Homo sapiens: one gene and its partners. The protein of the gene in region 3 interacts with the protein of the main gene of each other region in a biochemical or structural test. Each region holds a gene or a part of one and is shown on either strand. Other genes may lie near its edges.

Region 1 (6,949 bases), on a different chromosome or scaffold from region 3:
TCATTAAAAGTGAGGCTACCACATTTCCTACCTAGAAATCAGCCTGCCAAGGACACTGATGCCTCCCCTTTGCAAACAATCTGTTTTGACGGACTGTCATTCTATCTGAGCAGAATTTCCATATAAGTATCCATTTCATGCTTTGAACGATCAGACAAGCTTTACATTCTACCTATGGTGTTCAGAAATTGAGGCTAACATTGAAATATCAAAGCATTAAAAACAAAAATAAAAAGGCACAAACAACTTTAAATTAACTTAGATAACTGTACATATATATATATATACACACACACACACACACACAATATTTACAATATAAATTTTAAAAAATCTGGCTTGTTACAGGCAAATTCACTTGCCACAAGCTGTCCAGTCTAATCGACAGGATTCCGATTCCTGAACAGTGTCATTCGAATCAGAATGTCAGAGCTGAGTCTGCTGTTCTGACTTAAGGAACAACTTGACTCAGTCTCTTGATGGCTGGAGAATGCACATCCTAGCTGTCACTGGGGCTACAGGCAGGTCAGTGAGCACGCTAAAATTTTCCTTCTCAATTACACTTCAAATAGCAGGCATATTACTCGTATAAGATGCTATCTGATGATACTAACCTTTCTGCTGGTACCCTCCCACTGCTCCTAAAGCCACACCTTAATATACATTCTGGTGCTGTGTACTAATGTAGTTCCACTGTCAAGTCTTAACATTCTTCAAACCAGTGTCTGGGGTTGATAGACTATTTGTTTGACATGGCACAATGTTTTGAATTGGGTGGGAATCTTTTCCCCCAGTTAGAAAAACAGATTTAAATAACTTGTGCTACTGAAATCATTTTTACGGAAAAATGAGATGTGAATCAGTTCAAGTTCCAGTCTAATGAGTTAATGTCTCTCACTCTCTGGCTTCATGCCATGTCTCCGTACATCTTCCTGTAGTACAGCGATTCAAAGATGTCATTGTCTCCGGGACAGTTGTAATGGCAGGCACAGGTCTTGATGAACATCATGTTCTTCTTCATGACCTCGCCGTCAGGGCACTTGAACTCCACCGGCAGGGTGGTGGTTCTGTGGGGGGTGCAGCATCGGCCGTCGGTACATACTCCACAGAATTTAGCTCGGTATGTCTTCATGCTGGTGCAGCCAGAAAGCTCAAACTTGATAGGCTTGGAGATTTTGGGAGTACGGATGCACTTTTTGCCCTTCTAAGGAAGACAAGGGAAAAGAGAGAGGAAAAAAAAAAATCAGCGACTCTACAAGAGGAGTGGCTTTCTTCAACCCTCTGTGTTTTAGTCTTCTGTTGTCTGACTTCTGTTTATATTTTGAGGGGAGGAAGTTTGAGTCTCATTTGCTATGTCCAAAAATAGCCAGAGCCTCTCTTGGAATGTCTTGAATTAACTAACCCTGTGGAAGATTTCGTAGTGGAAAACTGGTGGTTGCTATTACACAAGCTCTCATTCCAGCAAAACAGCTCAATGGTTAGATAGTTTTGGAGATAACGGGCTTATACTAACAAGCGTGGCAAGAGCCCTAAGTTGGGTCCTATCCACTGTTTTTCCTGTGAAAAATAGTTAATAGGAGCAGAACATGTACCTTAATGTTCTCTTCCAGGTCAGCTTCGCAAGGCCTGACCATGCACAGGCGGCTCTGCTTCTCTAGCCTGCAGGAGGCGTTGTCATTGGTAACCCGGGTGGAGATGCCCATCCCACAGGTCTTGGAACAGGCGCTCCACTCTGTGGTCTGGACCAGGCAGTTGGCTCTAATCATAGTTGGGTCTGGGCCAAACGTGTCTTCCAGTCGGTAAGCTGCGAGAGCAGAGCACACAAACACCATGTAAAACGCCTGGATAAGGTATTTCCCCCGTTCGGTCGGCACAGTTAGGACTCCCTCCCTGGGAGAGAATCACGACCCTGACTTAGAGGAAGACTCGACTCACCCGCGAGGGCAGGCCCAACCACGGTTTGGTCCTTGGGCTCGTCACACACCCACTCCTCGCAGCATTTCCCGGGCAGCTTGACCCTCCTCGGGAAGGGGCAGTCAGGGCTGGGCAGACGAACGTCCATGCTGCACAGGGGCATGCAGCCCACCGCCCCGTCCAGGCACGTGCACTGGTACTTGCAGCTGCTCTGGAAGGACTCTCCGCTGCGGTACACCGTACCACCGAAGATGCAGGGAGCACCATCTTTGGCTGGAGAAGAGGAAGGGAAGAGAGGGGTGGGGGATGCAGAGGTCAGGCATTGGGGCACTCTCACATCCAGAGCGTCAGGGATGCGAGTTGGGATCTGGGCTGCAGGGGGCGGGCTGGCAGCAGCTGGAGAAAGAAACTCAGTCCGAGCGGTTTCTTTTTCCAGCGGGCGGGTGGGCGTGAGGGAGGAGGCGGCCGGACACCTAGCGGTGGGGGCTGCGGGTCTTACCGGTGCACACGCCGATCTTGCGGTTGGCCGGGGAGCCGAAGTGACAGAATAGGCCCTTGTGCGGGTCGCATGGGTCGCGCTCGGTGCACAGCTCGCCCAGCTGCTTGGCGCAGACGCGGCAGCAGCCGCAGCCGTCCAGCACGAGGCTCACGCCCGCCGGGCAGCGCGGCGCCGGCTCGTCCGGGCACCGGCACGGCCCGCTGCAGTTCTGGCCGACGGCCGGCTGCAGGGAGGACAGGGCGGTCAGCGGCGCTCGGTCGGCGCGCACGCCCTCCCCGGCCGGCCCCGAGTCCCTCCCTGGCAGCCGCCGGCCGCAGCGGGGGCTCCCGGCGCTTACCCGGCTGCAGAGGGCGAGGAGGACCACGAAGGCGACGCGGACGGGGCCCATACTGGCGGCGGTCATGGTTGGCACTGCGGGCGGAGCGGAGGGCGCGGTGGCGGCGAGCGGGGAGCGGCGGGGCCTGGAGCGCTGGCGGTGGTCGGAGGTGGGGACCGGGACGCGCCGGGCTGTCGTCTCGGGGCTGTCGGCCGGGGCGGCTGCCGTCGAGCTGGAGGGTGGAGTCGCACTGGCTGTCTCCTCTCAGCGGGGAAGAGTTGTTGTGTGAGTTTGGGGCGGGCGGCCCGAGGCTTTTATACGCTCCGGGCGGCCGCGGCTCGCCAATGAGCTGAATGGAGTCCTACACAAACAGGGACATTCCTCGCATTCCTCCCCACCTTCCTGCCTCATCAACTCACACCGGATTGATCCTGACCCCTTGACACTCAGCATTCCTCCGTCTGAAAAAGCTGGCACACTCCAGCTCACAGAAAAAAAAAAAAAGGAAAAAAAAAAGCGCAGTATTTCCAGCACCAAATAGAATTTTTTTTTCCCTATCCTCTTCGCACCACTCCTGATTCATATCATTTATAAACACACTGGCAATTATTTCTTATTTCTTTTTCGAATAAGTTTGCCCTGTTCTGTCCACTGACATACATCCTTTTTAGGAAGTAGGTAGCTGAAGAGGCAAACAGCAGGAATTCCTAAAAAATTCGAAAAGGTTTCTCCCCCCCAACCCTTAGCAATGATTTGCGTTTTAGAGGCTATAGGCTCTTGAAACTCTCCAAAGAGTAGAAAAGGAGTGAGTTGCTTTTAACCATTTGAAATCCTCAAGATGCCTACCTGTAAAACCCTGAATTCTATATTTGAGATTTGATCATTTGTCACTTGAGGTAACGGTTTTGGGACAAGAAAGAGAACAAAGACGCGTGTGACTCAGGATGCAGTCTCCTGGGGCAGATTTCCAAAACTCTTGCTTAGTTTTCTCTTAATATATGTAGGAGTTTTATATAGGCAAGGACAAGGGAGGAGTGGCCATCAATGTTTCCAGAAAAAGGGATCCATTGTTCTATCAGAGCAAATGATTCTGTGTTGGGTAGGTAGGGGCTCTGGGTGTCAGGGTGGGAACACTGGGATGCAAAGGGGGTTCACCTAGGAGCATTTAAACACAGCTTCACTAGGGTCTTTGAGAAATGAGTGCATTTTCTTATATTAAAACCTATAATCTTCAAATGTGGATTGGATTTGGTTTGTCTTGTTAAAATAAGAAGTCTGATTCCATTACAAGAGCAGTGTACCCTGTTGTATCTGGATATAAACTAAGATTGACAGTGAATAATATATTTTTAGTGACTCCCCACACATCTATGAATAGTGATTGTGACTTCTCATTACCCAAGGAACATGCAGCCTGAGGGAGTGAGGTCAGGACAAGGAAAGAATAGGCTTTATTCTCCCTGGGTGTGTGCAGATGTTGAATATGGCCAATAAACCTAAGCATATCTCCATTTCTTAATATAGTGCTACTTAGCTTCACTAAAGACCCAACTAATTCACTGTGCTTTCATTTGGAATCTATGTTGTTTAGTGGCTTTTTTGTTAATACCTCCAGTTCCCATTTTATATAAAGAGAGTGATTCTAGGGCCATACCATTTTTGTATTCTGTAATGCCGCATCATTTGACATTGGTGTTACCAATGAGTAGATTCCTTTAAGTTGTTGATGCTTCAGAGCATGGGTTCAAGATAAGCATATCTGTTTGTGGTGCAAAGATCGGCTTTAGAAACAATGCATTATAGATTTATCATTTGAAAACAGCCTGTTTAAACTGATCAAATTTTTAAAGTTTCAGTACAGTCTGTTGAAAAATAGCCAAGAAGAAATATAACCACTCCAACTTCAGCATAGAGCATATCATCTGTGCACGATTACCTCGTTAAGCCAGCCACATGTTATAGAGTGTAGTTGCATGTCAATAGTGTGAATGGCCAGCAAAGGGGTGGGGGTGCCCTCTGAAGCTCAGGAAGAATTTTCGTCATTGTTATTTAATGTCCTTTCCAAGCATTCCTCAAAAAGAAGAGGCCTAAGAGTTCCTATTTAAAGAAGGAACATTCCAAGTTAACTTAATAGCCACATGTGTATTAAAGGCAACTTGGCCCTCAACTTTTTCTTCCCTTGTGGATGATTTTAAAAGTCCAAAATATGTGGGAAGCCACAGTGAAACCTTTCAAGACCTAAACCCCCAATTACATCTACCTCTAATGGTTGGAAAGGTGTGGTGGCTGGGGAAGGGTAGGGATGTGCAGTGCGAGTCTCACCTAAGGTGGGATGTGGGCTTGGTGGTGAGCTCTCCTAGCTTGCAGAGTGAGGTAGGTGGGAGAAGGGTTGGGGAATTTCTGAATCCTCAGGAGAGTCTGAAAGCTACCACCATCTTCATGCCTGCAGCAGGGAGACTCATTCATGGAGGGGATAAATTGTTGTACTGGGTTATAGTTAGATGGCCTAGGTTGTATTCTTGGAACTGCCTTTCGCAGATCTCAGGGAAGTCACACGTAGGAGCCATATTCCCATTTCTGTTTAAAAAATGAAAGTAATCATAATTTTTTTAATTTAATAGGGTTCAGTGAGGGCTGAGTAGATGAAAATTCCAGGGAATTGGTGCTTTATTTTTTTCAGATTTTCTTGATTTTTTTTCAATCTCTGTGTATAATAAGTATATTACCATTCTGCTCTGTTGTTAAAAATGTCAAAAGAAAGAATTTGGTTTTACTATAAAATTCTCATAGTCCCTCGAAGTCTCAAAAAAATCTATAGTCAGTTCCAAATAGATGATTTTAATGTTGCTTAAGAGGAAATAAGCATATTGAAATATATAGAACATATGAAATCTCAGGAAAGAAAAAGTTTCTGTGCATTATCAGGTTAGATTGAGGCTTTATGATCAAAACTCTTTTTGAAGGAGTTAAAAGACTATTATTAAGAGAGTGACACAGAGACAGACAGACACATACATGCACACACACCCAGAGAGAGAGAGAATGAGAGAAGACACCCAAGACATTCACAGACTCAGAAGTATGTTTTTATTGTGATATGGACCATCAAATGCCAGGAAACTCAAAGGGAAAGGCTGATACTCCATCCATAATTCATGCCATGGGATCTGAATTCTTGCACTATTATCAATGACTCAGCAAATGTTTGTGTGTGCCTGGGCGGTAAAGTGGGAAATAGTGGCTTCTTATAACTTCATCCAACTTTGACTTACCCCAGCCCCTTTGATTGACAGCAGGTCAGAGTTGGGAGAAAAAGATCTTTGAATTTGTGTGCAAAATGGTTAAGATGCACTAATTTTGACTTGTAAGCAAGTATTTATCTAGCAAATGCTTTTTAGAGAGCATTTTTTCCTCGTGGTAAAATGAGGAATTAACTAAGCTGGCCACTGAGTCCTGTTTACCAAGCTATATAAGGTATGTGTGTGTGTCTACTAGGGCATCATTTGTACTGGTCGTTTGGTTAAGTCTTGTAAGATGTTCAGCTGTGGATGTATTACATTCCTTCCCTTAAGTTTTTTGTTGTTTTTTCCTCCCTAAAAAAAAAAGGTTTCTTGATCAGGTATCAGACACAGAGAAAACCTGGCAGGACTACAGAAAAGTGGCCAGAGTTGGAGTGTTTGTGTACTTAAAGAAGGAATCTTGCACATTTTCAACTTTTAGTTGTAGACATTTTCTTATAAGAGCAAGTAGGAGTCAGTGCCAGCCCTCAAAGCGGAAATCAAAGCTCCCAGGGAAACATGCCGGAGGAATGTGACTCAGAGCCAAGACCCATACGCAATGCATACACGGAGCTGTCAGACTTATAGGAGGAAGTCTGGCCGTATATGGGCATCTGGACAGTGAGCGATTTGTCCTTATGGTGGGTCAGGGGGAGGTTTCTGATGTTTCTAGCGTGCCTCAAATTCAATCATGTAAATTAATTCTACAAAAAAAAATGGTATCCCAGAAGCCTTTTGTAAAATAGTAATAAATATTATTCTGAAATCTTCAGGGACCCTGGTTTGGCTGACATGACCTCCTGTTTGCTTAAGATGAAGGTTAAGGAGAGGGCGTACTTGCTGGGAGTTCATGGCGGGGAAGATAAACGCGGATGTTTACTATCTAAATTACATTCATTACCTTCATGCCTTTTCCTCCTTATAATTAGTTCTCTGACTTTC
Region 2 (7,372 bases), on a different chromosome or scaffold from region 3:
AAGACACAGAAACTAAACTCTGAAAGGTTATTGTAAACAAGAATAAATTAGGAAAAAGTTTAAATTAAGCTTTTTGTCGGCACTGTTTTAGGAAACATCCCTGTTCTCTTGTAGATATCTTTCAACATGGATTTTAAAAGAAAATGTACATGTTACATACTGGGTAGTGGTCAATGTCTTGTTTATCTGGGTGCACTCTTTTTGATCTGCTCTTATTTTCCCCCCTTTGCTTTTCTACAACACCCCCTCTAGCAAGGCCTAAGCTGTAAAACTACCTTCGTCTCATATAGTGTCTTCGTAGAGAAGATGGTGAATATCCTGGGAATGAGCCTTGCTTTCTGAGATCTCTAGCACACCTAAACCCTCCCCAGAAGCATTCTCTGAGCTCCCTGGGCTCCAACCTGCTGCTTGCTGCCTGCTAGTTTGGGGTCCGCCCTTGAGCTCACGGAAGTTATCCTCTGTTGGTGCTCTGTCATGTACCCAGGGAGAGTGGAAACATAGCCAGGAGACAGCAGCGCGCACAGTCACCTGTCTTTCAGTGTCAGCCTGGTTGCTCCTAGATGTTCCTAACTTGCTCCATCTCAGACCAATGACTCCACGGGTCGTTACAAGAAGAACAGAAGAAAGAAAGTTTTCTTGTAAGAGAGAAGGAAAGGTTGCCGGAAGTGGGAATAAGCTGTGATGGCTGATGGAGTCAAAAGACCGTTGAGACAAAATGAGAAGGACGAATGGAAATAAATAGATGTTACTGATTATTCCTCAAATCTCAGAAAATTCCATTTCACCCCAACAGATCTTGCCCTTTATCCCCCAAATGAGCAGTTATTCGATGAGTGAAATAAACTCTAAAATATGGAAATAGATTCCTCTCGGGAGTGTGAGGGAGGCCCTGGGACTCGCTGGTGCGTGTGCGGAGGGCCCTCTCTCCAGCTGGGCGCTCCAGGCGCCCTCACCACGTGCGCCGCAGGCTGCTGAATCAGCGCGATCAGATAGACTAGACAGGCGCAGAGGGGCGGGCATAGACCTGCTTTTCTCTCAGCATGAACCATCAGGTCTTCCGCATTAGGCCCCCTTAACCCACCGGAGGAGGCTAGCCAGCCTACCGCCTTACCCACTTGCGCGCCTCCGACCCCCCTCTGGAGACTGCTGGCTGCCAAATCTTCAGACCGCCGGTGGTGTCCACGCTCCTCTGGAGCCTGTGTAAGAAGGAGCCCAATGGCCCGTGGAGTCTTTGGTCTGAGATGGAGCAAGTTAGGAACATCTAGGAGCAACCAGGCTGACACTGAAACCAGGTGACTGTGAGCGCTGCTGTCTCCTGGCTACATTTCCGGTCTCCCTGGGTACCTGACAGGCCCTGGCTGGGGCTCTGCCTGGTGGACCAACCCGCGCTGGAAGAGCGATCTGGCCCTACTGAGCAAAAGCCCCACAGAGATCTCCCCACTCCTACTCACAGCCCCAAACCGTCCCTGCCCCCAGCTGCCTAGAGGCAGTGAAGAGAAACCAGAGGAGTGGCTGCGATGGTCTGGAAACATAGATGGGGTGGAAGGGAAGAGGAGATGAGAAAGGAAAAAAGAGAGCGTGCTGAAAGAAAAAACTCAGAGGGAAAATTTAAAACTTTGTTTATAAAAAGTCCTACAAAATCTGCACCCCTACCAAATTTAACCTCTGCGTTTCTTCTAAAATAAGGAACTTTCCCCTAACTGTTCTTGGGGACCAAAGGCTGGCCACTCTCCTAATACGGTGTAGTCATGGTCTCAAGATACTAAACATTGTTAAATCCAACTCTGGAGTTAGTAATTTCAATGTTTATCATGTCTCCCTCTCTAAACGCGTCCAGTTTTCTAGAGCACAATCTTCTTCCAAGCAGGAATGTCTGTCTGGTGTCCCCTAGTTATCTATCTGTCTGTCTATCTATCTGTGTATCTATCTATCTATCTATCTATCTACCTATGTGTATACATTGTATACATAGACTTATATACATATATACATATACATATACAATATTAATTTGAGGTTTATGGTAGCGGATGGAAGAGGGAAGTATTTGGGATTTGATTCTTCTTTTCAAAAAATAACTTCAGTTATGGATAGGGAGAAGGGCTGCCTTTGATGCCTAATGAAAAATGCCAGGCTAGTTCATAAGCAGAAGGTAAACAAATTGAGTGAGAAGAAATGAGTTTTTTGTTCTCTCCTGTCATGGCTGGGGACTCGTCTTTGAGGCTAGAGCAAACTGAAAACAAGGTACCCGTCTGGGCACCAGCCTCTAGGTAACATACACCTGAGAAATCGCAATTCCTCATGCCCAGGAGAGGGGTGCGTGTGCGCACGCCATATAGATGCATCTCCACCCAACCCGCCCGGCTGTTTCTGAGTATCAGCTTGGTCCCAGTGGCCTGGGCTCAGGAAGGTGAGCCTGTGTCCCGGCGAATACCTGCTGTCCCTCCCGAATCTTCCGCGGCCGCCTAGGACGGGTTTTGTAGGAGAGCGAGTAACTTACTTAACATATTGGCTTCGTGGGATCCATTGACTTTGCCATCCGGGTAGATCTGCAGATGGAAACCGATGCCCACTCTGCAGTAGAGGCTGCCGGTCCGGCGCCCCGAGGGGCTCCACTGGAAACTGCTCTGCTCCAAGCCACTTCCTTGGCTGCCCAGAGAAGCTGCGGGGGAGGAGGAGGCAGAAGAGGAAGACATAGCGCTACTGCTGCTCTGTCTGCTGCTGGAGCCTCTAGGGTTCCTATCAGTGGCAGCGGGTCCGGGTTGCCCTTTGGGGGCGAGACGCTTCTCCCCGTGAGCCCAGGCGCTGAGGATCAGGTGGCTGAAGAAGAGGAGGAGGAGGAAGGACAAGCTCATTCTTCCAGCCGCGGGGGTCCTAAGTGCATCTTGTAGGGCTGATTCTGGGCTCTGTAGCCCCTGTGCGGCTGCGTGCCTCTGGCTCTGCCCGCCTCGCCGCACCGGGTGGACATAGCCTCGGGGAAGAGAAGGGGAGAGGGGAAGAGAGAGGCCACCCGAGCGGATCTCCGCGCTGGCACCGGGATATTTATAACGCCAGTGATCTCACTGCTCCGTGCACGCCTGCGAAGCTTCCCCTCACCCGCGGCTTTGTGTACTCACTGGCCGGTGCGGGGAGGGAGCCTCGCGGTCCCGGGGGCGGGGGATGTGAAGGAGGGAGGAGATCCGAGCGAGTGAGTGGGAGGAGAAGCTGGGCTGAGAGAACCTGCGCCCCGGACGCTGGGTGCGCCCATACCAGGGCCACGCATCCCAGCAGTTCTCTCGCGTCGCGCGGCCACCCGGATTCCCCGACTAGGACCAGAGCCGCGTGGAAACGAGCTCGGCGTTAGCAGCTGAGTCCTCCAGGGGCAGCGATAGAAACGGAGGGTTGAAATGTGGAAATGGGTCCTTGTCCTCTCCCACCTCTACAGCACACTTGTGACTGGGCAACGCACTCTTGCCCCCCAGGACACGATTTCCAGGTTCTCCTCTCTTTGCCCTGTAAACCCTGCTATCTCGTCCTCTCTCTGGGAGCCCTTGGAGAAATGCGTCCCACCAGGAGATCCCACTGCTTCTACGTCTTTCGGCGTTGGAAAACCAAACAGGGATTCGCAGCCCAACTTGGGAAGCCTTTGGTGTGGCGCGGTTCGGGGAGAAGGCTGTTTTTGCTGTTATTAGCGATTTATTAAAGAGCTAAGGAATGGGTTTATTCAGCGTTTAAAACGCCACCCTGAGTCATCATGCCACGACTGGAGCTGCTTTCTTGTTGGAAACTCTCGGCTGCGCTGAACATTATGACGAATTTGTTTTTCCTTCTGGGAAGCTCTCCGTCTGTATTCGTGAGAGTGAGGGCACACGCACCCCCGCGCTCCGACCGGGGAAAGAGAGGCAGCGGCTGGACACCAGCACATGTAACTGACCGCCCAGTTGTCCTCTTTCGCCCCAGGATCCCCGTGGCAGGAAGGGTTAGCTAACTGCTCGCTTTAGCTTACCCAGACCTGCCATTGACTGAGGGACCGACCTCAGTGAATGATTAATGACGTGCGCGCTGGATTTCAACCTCAGGAAACCCGAGAAGGGAAAATTTCCTTGAGAACAGAGAATTTCCCTGTACGGGCAACGTCCCCAGACTGTTATTTATCTGGGAAATACACCTGACTTGCATGCTTGGAATGTTTCTGTCTAAAAACATATTTGAAACTTTAAACTAAGCTATGATACATTATTCATTGGTTATTTTAATGAAACGGCCCGTGCTATTGACTGATAAGGTCAATTCAGATGAACCAAGGTTGAAGCTAAGAAACGGCCTTACCCATTATTGAGTACCTACTTAAGGTTTTCCATCTCAATAATGAAACGCATATAAAACAATGCAGATTTTTCAGGTTTGGAATCTTCCACCGCCAGAGTAACATCAAAGTACTTGTAAAACAGAAGGTTACCTGGAAAGTGTAGTAAAACCACTGTGATAAAGAAAGAGGACATCACACATAGATGTGCATAACATGGGCACACTACATGAGATACTGTCCAGAGCTGAACACACCCCCTGTCCACTGTTCTAGGCTCAAGTTATATACTTCTCCCTTAACTAGGGTGGGTAGGCAGATCCTTACAAGGCAACCCTAAAAGTAGACATTGAGAACAGTCACAGTATCTCTCAGAATGGTCTACTTGACTGAAATCACCTTCTTCTGGGGAGGATGATTGTAGGATGGTTCTGAACCTGGGTGCTGTTCCTTCTTCAGGCAATGCCCTGAGGTCTGTGGCAAAGCTGTCAGGGTTTAAGCCACATTGATGCTGCTGAATGCCATTTGTAAGTTCCCCCATGCCACGCAAATACACAGCCCATTCCTCAAGTGACGAAGATTCTCCAAAGCAAATCCAGCTGCTTGTTTCTCCCTTTCCTTTTCCCAAGGAGTCTGCTGAAAGAGGAGGAGAGTGGTTCCTGCCCCAGCTGCACTATCAGCCCCCTGTCTAAACCCAGGAGGTCAAGAGGACTCTGGAGTCCAGTTTCTGGAGCTGTTATCAGCCTCTTGTCTTTGCTCCCTTCTCTCAGTTTCTGCAGCCCCGCCTGCACTGAAACAACCATCCTTGTTTCCCTCTCAACTCCCGCAAGAGCCAAACTGGGGATCAAATCCTTGCCTAGGGATGACCCAGGAAGGCAAAGACACCTGCTCAGGCTTTAGTCTACCTCAAACTGGAGGATGGCAAGATACACTTTTCTGGATTCCAAGGGCTTAGAAAGAGTCAGGGGCTCACTAAAAGGAGACAAGTGACCAGCTGTTGTGGACAGTGATTGAATTTGGCAAACCAGTCCTCAACGCCCGACTGTCTTCCATACTGGGGTGGGAGGATTGGGGGTTGGGCGGGCAGCCGAATGTGCCCACATACTCGGGGCTTAAAAGGAAATCTCCATTGGTGATCATAAGTGTGTAGGGTGGATGCTATTAAACTTTTTTTTTCACAAGAGAGTTATGTATTGGGGCCATTAAAAAAAGCTACAAAAACTGAACAGTGAAACATGAAAGACAGCACTGCGCTTGTTCCGTGAGCTGAGCTGCCAAGCCCCCTTCCTCCGCAGCTCAGCTGAGAGACGAAAGGGTCGCGCTATGCGCCAGGGCTGCGCCCGCCCTGGTCTACATCCTGCCTACCACTCTGAGCAGCCGATCTTCGAGAGCCTCTGTCCACAGCAATTCTGCAGTGGGGAATGTGGGGCGGGGAGCTATCTCAATTTACTGTTTTGGCTACCTCGAGCCCTACTCCTGTGAACTCCACCCAAAAGAGCGCAAGCCTGCACCACACTTTCTCTGGCGACTTTCCGAAAAGTTAATCGCCCAAAGCCCCCTGCTGGGGACATCTCAGCTTTCCCCATTAAGCCTCGGAGCTTGGTCCAGATCTCCAGGTCATGCGCGGATTCGAGCCCACAGCTCAGTTCTCCAATTCCTGCGTTCTCCCAGCCAGGAAAGCAAGGTTGGGAGAAGGCGCAAGCGCCCTGCTTCCTGCAGAGGTAAAACAAACGGCCCCGAAGATTAGTTTCCACTCATCGCCACCTGACAGACGACGGAAAAACTACCCAACAGATTAGCAGATTCCACCAGTCACCTAGGCGCCAGGCAGTGAGTGCGCGGGCTTCGGCTTAGGTCCCCACCCCCTCTTCTTGAGCTCTCTTTCAGCGGTGTCTCACCCCACTAGGCCTCACATTTCCTAGACCAACCCCCTCAGGGTCACTTTTCCTGGACCCCAGCATCTGAACTTTCTTTCCAGGCCTCCCCTATTTCTGTGTGGAAAACTGGTGGTGAATTTCCCCTATCCCTTTCGTAACTACAAGTGTGATCTGGTTACTAGAGACAGAAATCAATGCAAAAGAAGATAAAGTTACCGGTAACCTCTGGTTGGAACCCAGAAGCCTAAGAAAAGAGAAGTCAGGGTGTATAAGTCAAGTCAGAGCCCAATATTTCCTTCACTCTAGAGACCGTCTCAATATTTACAACATTCCCCTGGGTTTAAACTGAGGCCAGGCCTCACTGAGGCAAGGGTCCTGAAGGCAAGACTGTTCATCCTACAATGTCTCATGCTGGGTTGGAAGGACGGACAAGAGATAGATGATGGAATAGAATGAACAACCCTGGCAATGCAAGCCACTGTCCTGGGAGGCTGTCTGACCCAGGAACCAGGCTGCCACTGTGCCAGGCTGATCTTACACAGACTTCTGTTCCAAGAGCCTCAGTTACCCCAAAATCTCCACTCCTGGAGGTGCAGGTGCCATGAGAAATTTGCCTGTTCTGAGCTTTAAGATGACTGTACAGTTTGAAGGCAAGGCCAAATTTTCTTTGTTTGATCCAAAGAAAACCCAAGGATTTTTAGAATGCTTTCCTGGGATAGCTGTTTCAAACATGGTCCCAAAAGCCTCTGCACCCCACCCCTACCCAACTCTATATTCCTATCACCCTTTCATACTCTCAGGCTATACCCAGATAGTACTATCTTTTGTTAATCAGGTCCTGGGAGCCCCACAGTGGCCTCTAATTGCATACACTTTTTAGTAGAGACTGCTATGGACTGAATGTTTGGGTACCCAAAATTCAAGTTAAAACTCTGTTCTTTTATGTGATAGTATTTGGATATGGGGCTTTGGAAGTTAATCAGGTCATGAGGTGGGATTAGTGCATGCCCCTCTGCCTCCCCCTTATAAAAAGAGGAGAGAGCTTTCTTCCTCTCACAACCCCAATCCCTCAAATGAGGAAACAAGGAAGGAGTCCCTCCATGCTGGCACCCTGATCGCAGACTTCCCAACCTCCAGAACCATGAGAAATATGTTTGTTGTTTAAACCATTCTGTCCATGGTTGTCTTGTTATAGCAGCCCAAGCCAACT
Region 3 (7,022 bases):
TCTTTGCAACATTTTTTACCCATACATTATCCTTTTGGAACCTGTTGGGCTTATAAAAACAAAACCAGATCATTCCTTTTCACAGCTGCATATACTGTATCGTATAAACACACCACACTTTATTTATCCATTCCCTTATATGCATAGGCATTTGCTTCCAGGTTTCAGCCATAACAAACAGTAGGCAATGAACATCTCTGTACATGTTCCCTTACACACGTGTGCAATAATTTCTCCATGGTATAGGCTCGGGGTTGGCAGACTACAGCCTGCAAGCCAAATCCTGCCTACCGCCTGTTTGGGTAATTAAATTTTATTGGCATGCAGCCAGGTCCATTCATTTCTGTACTTCTAGCACTGCTTTCTCACTACTATGGCAGACACGAGAAGTTGCGACAAAGACCATACGGCCCACAAAAGTCTAAAATATCTACGACCTCCCTTTACAGAAAAAGTTCACCAATTACTATATAGACCTACAAGAGAAATTGCTAAGTCAAAGATAGGCGTTTTCAAGTTTACTAATTACTTAGCAAATTGATTTCAAAGTGCCAGTAAACATTCAATGGAAGAAGCCAGGGTCTCTCTCCCCCAGGGAAAATAACGTATTCCTTCATACCGCTTTCTCCTCTTTTAAGCTATTCTTGGGAGCTCAGCCATCTGTGACCCACAGCAAGATGTGGATTCTTCAATCCCTGTTTTAAGGGAAGAACTTCTCAACCAAAACATAGGATCTTATTCTGACAAATCTCTCTTAGCACTTACAAAACAAAAACATAAGGAGGCTGCCTTTTCCAAAACCCCCTCCAGGTTATGACCTAGAAACAGCAGCGCCCTCTAGGCCCTCAAATCCAAAGTCACCTGCACCCTCCTTTCCACTGGCCCCCAGGTACGGGCACAGACCCTTCTTTGTGTTCATGGCTAGGAACATCTTCCAATGGGGATTTTAAAAAGAACTTTAAACATGCACACAGGGTGCTCTGGGAGCAGGATCTGGAAGCCCAGCCATTTCTAAAATGATTCAATCAAACTGCAGAGTATTTGGGCGAATGCAGTTTTTCCTCCTACTCACCATCCTGTGTGCAGGCTCCAAGAAGATTTATGATATTCTTGTGTTTCCCAATCATCTTCATCATCTCCATCTCTGACACCAGATCAGAAAGGTCTTTCTCTGTGGCATCATCTATGAACAGTAGGCATATTCACAAATCAGTTCATTTCCTCTAACTCATGGGCAGCTACTGTTAGTTGCCAAAGACTTAGTTGAAACAGCATGAAATTGAATTTCAGAATCAGAAAAGATTTTCCAAATCATCTCCCTCATTTTATCGAGGAAGGGACAAAGGCCTACACAGGGAACTGCCTCACTCTGTGTCAAAGAGCTCACTGGGGGGCCAATGGGGCCAAGAGTCAGGACGAGAGCAGGGGCTTCTGACACTAATGCCAATTCTTTCCTAGACCATGAGATAATCTCATCCTCTGCCATATCTAAGGCGTCTCAGAAAACCACACCAAACTTCATGGTGCCTGAAACCAGCGAGGAGACCGAGGGTAGGGCCATTTCAAATCACTACAGACTTGCTCCCGACCAAGCATTCTTAACCCAGCCCCTCGAGGCCCTTAGAGCGTTCCGAGGTGGGTTCAGACGGTTCCCCATAAACAGGGCCATAAACGTGTGTGCATGTGCATTCTGAGCAGGTAAAGGGCTGCGACTTCTAGTGGCTTCTCAGAGGGCACTGCAGTTCCCATCCTAAGAAAAGTTACATAAACTTCCGCTCTGTAATTTCAAGCAAGAATGGCACAGGTTCCACATACGCGGGCTCGCAGTTAGCTTCTCTTAGATTCTCCTAAGTGGCAAGACTTTCCCATGTGCCCTCCACCTCAAGCTAATTCAGTATGGAAAAATCTGGGTTTCCTTTAAAAAAAAAATGAAATATGGGCATGGATAAGAACCATGTTGCAAACAGTTTTTTAGCTTCACAAAAGGAAGATCAATACAAGTGACTGTGTGTGCAAAATTTACACTGATGTATGTGAAGGAGGGAGCCACGGGCCATGAGGAGGGAGGGAGACACAGCCGTGGGCTGTAAGAAAGGACACGCCACAATGGCTTGGGGACTAATATCCTTCTGTGTCCTTACAGGGAAGGCTGCCAGCCTGGGCATCACAAGAGAAAGAGAACTCCCAGACCTCCCTTTTTGCAATATCCCATGTAACTCTGAGCTCCATTAGCAAAACCAGAAGTTCCGCCAAAAGAGATGAGAAGCCTGGGTCCTCCCCACACCTGGCCCTGGTACGCAGCCAGGGGCTGCCTCAGTCAGTGGTGCCATGACACCTGGGGCAAGACAGCACAGTGTTCCTCCCCGGCATCAGGCTCCAAGGTGGGGAACATCTCAAAGCACTCTAGTTTTCCTTGGGAGTCACTCAGATAAACAGCCTTTTAAAAAACCCAAAAAACAAAATGCACATCTTGTTGACAAAGTCCAGCCTGCTACTTCCCCTTGGGAGGGATGTGATGACTATCCCATGAGAACCCACAAAAGAAAGACAAAGCCTAACTCCAGAGCGCCTGCGACATGCCCAGCACCATATCCCAAGGATGGGCCTCTCTGCCTGGAAACGTGGGAAACACTCGGCATGGGATCTTCTTTCCGAGATCCCTACAAGAGGATTTATAATGTGACAGTTCCCTATAACTCTTCTCATAAAAGAATACTGCAGGACGAATAAGTTAATGGTTAAAAGTTCTTTAAGTTCTTTGGACATGGGCATGAAGCAGGGTTGGAAGGTTAACGTAGAAGTGTTCACAGTCCCACAAACACAACACGACATTTACATCTCAGGGTAATTGTTTATGTGTCCCAGGAGGCTCTGCACCAGCCCTGATCCTGTTCACTCCTTCTCAGCTTCTAAGTGACTCTCCCAGACCAGTGTCATTTCTGCTTTGTTCCTCACGCAAAAGAGAAGGCTTTCTGCTCCCTTACGTCTCTTCGTTCCCTCCAAAAACACAAATTTTCTTGTACTTGTAAAGTTAAGGTTTAAGTCCCAAATCTAACACACCAACTCCTAGCTAATAAATTCAATTATATGTGAGTTGATAATTTCTAAGCACATAAAAATACAGAGAGAATGAAGAATTGTGGTCACGAAGAAGGAGTCAAAGAATAACTCTATGTAGGAGGCTACCGCTTTCTAACAAAACTGGCTTTTCTTTATAAGTACACACAGCTCAAGATAAATAGTCTGTCCGAGATGCTGATTTATACCGAAAACTTCTCAACCCCTAGGTCAACTATGTGCTCTCTGACCCCGTGCCATGATAGAGTTCACATGCCACAAAAGGAACTTTCTTGATAAGACTCTCCACCCAGCCCCTCCCCGAGCCTCCCGCCTCCCCGCTCACCTTTCAACATCTTCACGGCCACGGTGACCGCCTCCTTGGGCTTGTCTTTGTCAATTCCCACTGCTTCCGCCATGACCACTTGCCCAAAGCAACCTTCTCCCAGGGGCTTGCCCAGTGTCAGCCTAAATGTGTAAATAGGGGATTAGCACATAGCATCTGGTGATGGGGTGTAGTGAGGGAAATTCCAGAACTAAATATAAAAATCTTTCAGCGGCTTACTAAAGCATGGAGTGCTTATCATATGGAACTAATGAGACTTAGGGTACACACGCGCCTGAGTATTTTCCTAGTGACGTTTTAGAGAATGTCAATTACTGGTGGAACGGCTATTAAATTTCACATTGGTATTCTCGGTTTATTTTCTTTAGGGAAGGTATCCTTGCTAGTGCGGTGGTCAGCTTTCCTAAGTGCCAGAGAAGAGCTTTTGATCTTGAGCCAATTAAATATTTGTAATTTAGAATGGCTCAAAGAAAAAACGTTAAGACTGTTCTTATTTTTTTGTCCCTGTAAAATGGTGGCTTTAAAATTATTATTCAAATACCAATGGATTTTATGGTCACATTCCTTGCCAAGTTACAGGATATGCCTCTTAAAAGCATTTCAAGGAATCTCTAATTTTTTACTAAAAAGAAAATTCTAAAAAATTGGGGACTTTTTTTTTGACATAAGTTTAAAAGTCCTTATGACTACATAAAATTAACAATGAAGAAAATCCAAAGTGAACACCACAAATTAAATTTCTAAGATTACAAGGTCTATGCACATCGGACGAATAGCCATATATTGTCCTTGTGCATTCCAGAAACCAACAAAACGCAAAAGTCTTTGGAATACTTATGAATACGGCTCTTTCTAACTTAAGCATAACACAGCAAAGCATGGAGCTGCCATTAGTAAACAGTATTTAAGGTAAGTACACAATAGTTTGCAAAAGTGCAGCATAAAGACTAAGGGCAGCATGTGCTATGCTGAGGTCATTTTGTTTCTACCCAGAACGAAAATTAAATTTAACATCTTGGCAGAAAATAAATATTTGCATTGGAAAAATGGCTAATTTATGTCCCACCGCCTTGCTACTACAAGCATAACAATCCTTTCTTTGTATAACTTCTGCCTCCGATCTAATAAACTGCTTCTAAATAGCCTTCATTCATTGGAAATCTGTTCCACCTACGTTTGCGCTAAACACTGTTTTGAAATGTTTAGCACTCAGATTTTCCACACTCAGGGTACCCCGGGTGGGAGGTAACAGTTGGGCACATACAGACTTCCACTGTTGACTGTGGTGTCACAGGTGGCAAAAACTATGGACTAAACCCGAAAGCTGCAATTTCTTAAAATATGATCACAACTCCCCAGTTCAGTTATATATATAGGAATGTGCACATGAACCTATCTGTGTATATAATCACACACAAACTAGGGCTGGCGGAGTTCACAAGAAACATCCATTTCTCCACATCCTACAGGTAAAGAAACCATTCTTTGTGTTTTCTCTGGTGCCCCACCAGTAAATGTCCAATTAACATGCCTTGAGTGAATGAATAAGTGAATGAGTGAGTGGTCTTTTCACTACAGTATACAAATCAACTGGAAATTACTTCCATTAACACTCTAACCAAATAATATCCATACAATTATTCAGTCCTAGCTAACGGTACACATCTCTAAATTGGCACTTGGGAAACAAAACTGATGTGACATCACGTGAATCAAAATCAGAAGTGCCAGCCACATAAGCTACCTCTCCCTTCCAAATAGAGCTCATCAGATCAGTCTCTGGAAGAGCTTATCTTTGCATTTCCAAATGTGTATAGGTACACATGAGAAGTGTATATAATCTGAGGAGCTACTGAAAATGTCAAGGCAAACAGGGTAGCTGCTTATAAGCAAGTCAAGAGCTTATTCCAGTGTATGTGATGCAGAAGTAGTCAGCATTTCCACCTTCCCGTACTCTCAAGCTGTGACGACAAAAAGTACCCCAGAAGTGAGTGGACAGCCCTACAATGACCACTGCACTTCCTTTCATAAGGAGGATCTAGGGGTCGGTCCCTGCCTAGAGGACGAGGGCTAGGAGCTCAAATTCTGCCCACTGACTCCATGCCCCACACGATGATCCTGCTGAGGTTTGCAGTTCAGAGCTCCCAGGTTACCACCACGTGAAGGGAAATGAAAGGAAAACTCGCACAAGCCAAGAACTCTGCTCAGTCCTGGGAGGTCTGAACCACCACCCTCATTTTATGAGAATGAATTTCAGAGAATCAGGTGCCTCACCCGAGGTTGCCCAGCCACTGTCTGGCAAAGCCAGGATTCAAATGCAGCCCAACGGAGCTCCAGTACGTGGAGTTCAAGCGAGACCAAGAGATACGTAGCCCCAACACCACCCAGGTGGCCATATTTTGACTAAACATCTGATTGGCACACCTCTGTATCATCCAACAAGGAAAATATTATGGATCACAGAAATTAGATGTCAGGTACCATATTTGAAGCTTTTCAGCCCAATATGACATTAATAACCAATGAGAACAGCAACACTGGGTAGCGGTCCTTAAGGCCATTTATATTCTGCATCTAATTTCTCCACAGAAGTGAACAGAGAACAGTCTTGTTCTAGTAACCAAAAGCTAGAATGTCAGATCTGTTTTATAAATTGGATAATTCTACTTTTATTCCATTTGACGGAGTCTGAATTGCCCAGACACTTAAAAAATGATAACCAGATGCCATCTTCTTTGGGGACCAGCCAGGGGCAAGTAGCTCTGCTTTCAAGGAGTTATTTTTTTTTTTAAATCCATTTTTTTCTTTTCCAGGAGTTGGTTATTTAGAAATACAATCTTACTCCTGCTGACATCATCACACCAAGACCTTTGTGGCTAAGGGTCATAAAAAGAAAATGTTAATCCAATATCCCCATTTATAGCTGAGTCTCCATCCTGGGACATGGCCAAGAGAAGTACTCACTTATCTCTTGGAAACTCCCATTTTGGGTCCTCTGGAAGTTCATACTCGGAGACCCCTGCCAGCATGGGGGTGTCTGCCGTTGAAGAGAGGCGTGTTGTTATCCTCACCAGCGGGGTGTTGGAGTTCATGGAGGAGCTGGACTCAGCCGAAACCTGGATACAAAATGCAAAGACACAGATGTAATCCTGGCTCCATCTGAGAAGGCTGGAAGTCAGCCAGAGCCCAGCCAGAGTATCGAATCTTAGAAAGGAATGGGTTGGGGGCTGGCAGAAGTCAGAAACCAAATTAGAAAACCACTGGAATCTAACTCCTCTGCCCTCCAGTCCATGCAGTACCAGATTTCATCCAAATTTTATGTTCCTATGTTCAGGTTTTTCTATGAAATTTTTCTATACCATCTGATCACAATGTAAATTTTCTTTCTGTCCTAATTCCTCCAGAGAGTCACTTGAGGACATGCAGACAGTCCTCTCTGGCTTCATTAGTGCCTTTATGGTTGTACCTGCACCTGTACTGGAGCCCTGGATAATGGATCCCCTCTCAGACCACCCGGATCATGGATCAATGCTGTGCTTATGAAATTCTACGAAAACTTTTAGGAAATTGGCTCTACCATATTTCCTCTGTCTTTGGAAATGTAAAGTGGAATATCTCA

The links. Proteins that work in one complex are often made in the same cells at the same time.
Region 1: the proteins of FGFR2 (region 3) and CCN2 interact on a protein array, tested with the Homo sapiens proteins (one study listed by IntAct).
Region 2: the proteins of FGFR2 (region 3) and FGF5 interact in a test that uses a peptide from one of them, tested with the Homo sapiens proteins (one study listed by BioGRID).

The regions. Positions count from the first base shown.
Region 1 is NC_000006.12:131,948,357-131,955,305, forward strand, and holds the start of CCN2 (CCN family member 2 precursor), read right to left. Parts: upstream 3,017-6,949; 5' UTR 2,817-3,016; coding exon 2,751-2,816; intron 2,637-2,750; coding exon 2,414-2,636; intron 2,188-2,413; coding exon 1,936-2,187; intron 1,805-1,935; coding exon 1,593-1,804; intron 1,205-1,592; coding exon 908-1,204; 3' UTR 1-907. UniProt on the Homo sapiens protein: Major connective tissue mitoattractant secreted by vascular endothelial cells. Promotes proliferation and differentiation of chondrocytes. Is involved in the stimulation of osteoblast differentiation and has a critical role in osteogenesis.
Region 2 is NC_000004.12:80,262,308-80,269,679, reverse strand, and holds the start of FGF5 (fibroblast growth factor 5 isoform 1 precursor), read right to left. Parts: upstream 3,017-7,372; 5' UTR 2,856-3,016; coding exon 2,501-2,855; intron 1,413-2,500; exon of another isoform or gene 1,112-1,412; intron 1-1,111. UniProt on the Homo sapiens protein: Plays an important role in the regulation of cell proliferation and cell differentiation. Required for normal regulation of the hair growth cycle.
Region 3 is NC_000010.11:121,497,423-121,504,444, forward strand, and holds part of FGFR2 (fibroblast growth factor receptor 2 isoform 1 precursor), read right to left. Parts: intron 6,520-7,022; coding exon 6,368-6,519; intron 3,526-6,367; coding exon 3,404-3,525; intron 1,184-3,403; coding exon 1,073-1,183; intron 1-1,072. UniProt on the Homo sapiens protein: Tyrosine-protein kinase that acts as a cell-surface receptor for fibroblast growth factors and plays an essential role in the regulation of cell proliferation, differentiation, migration and apoptosis, and in the regulation of embryonic development.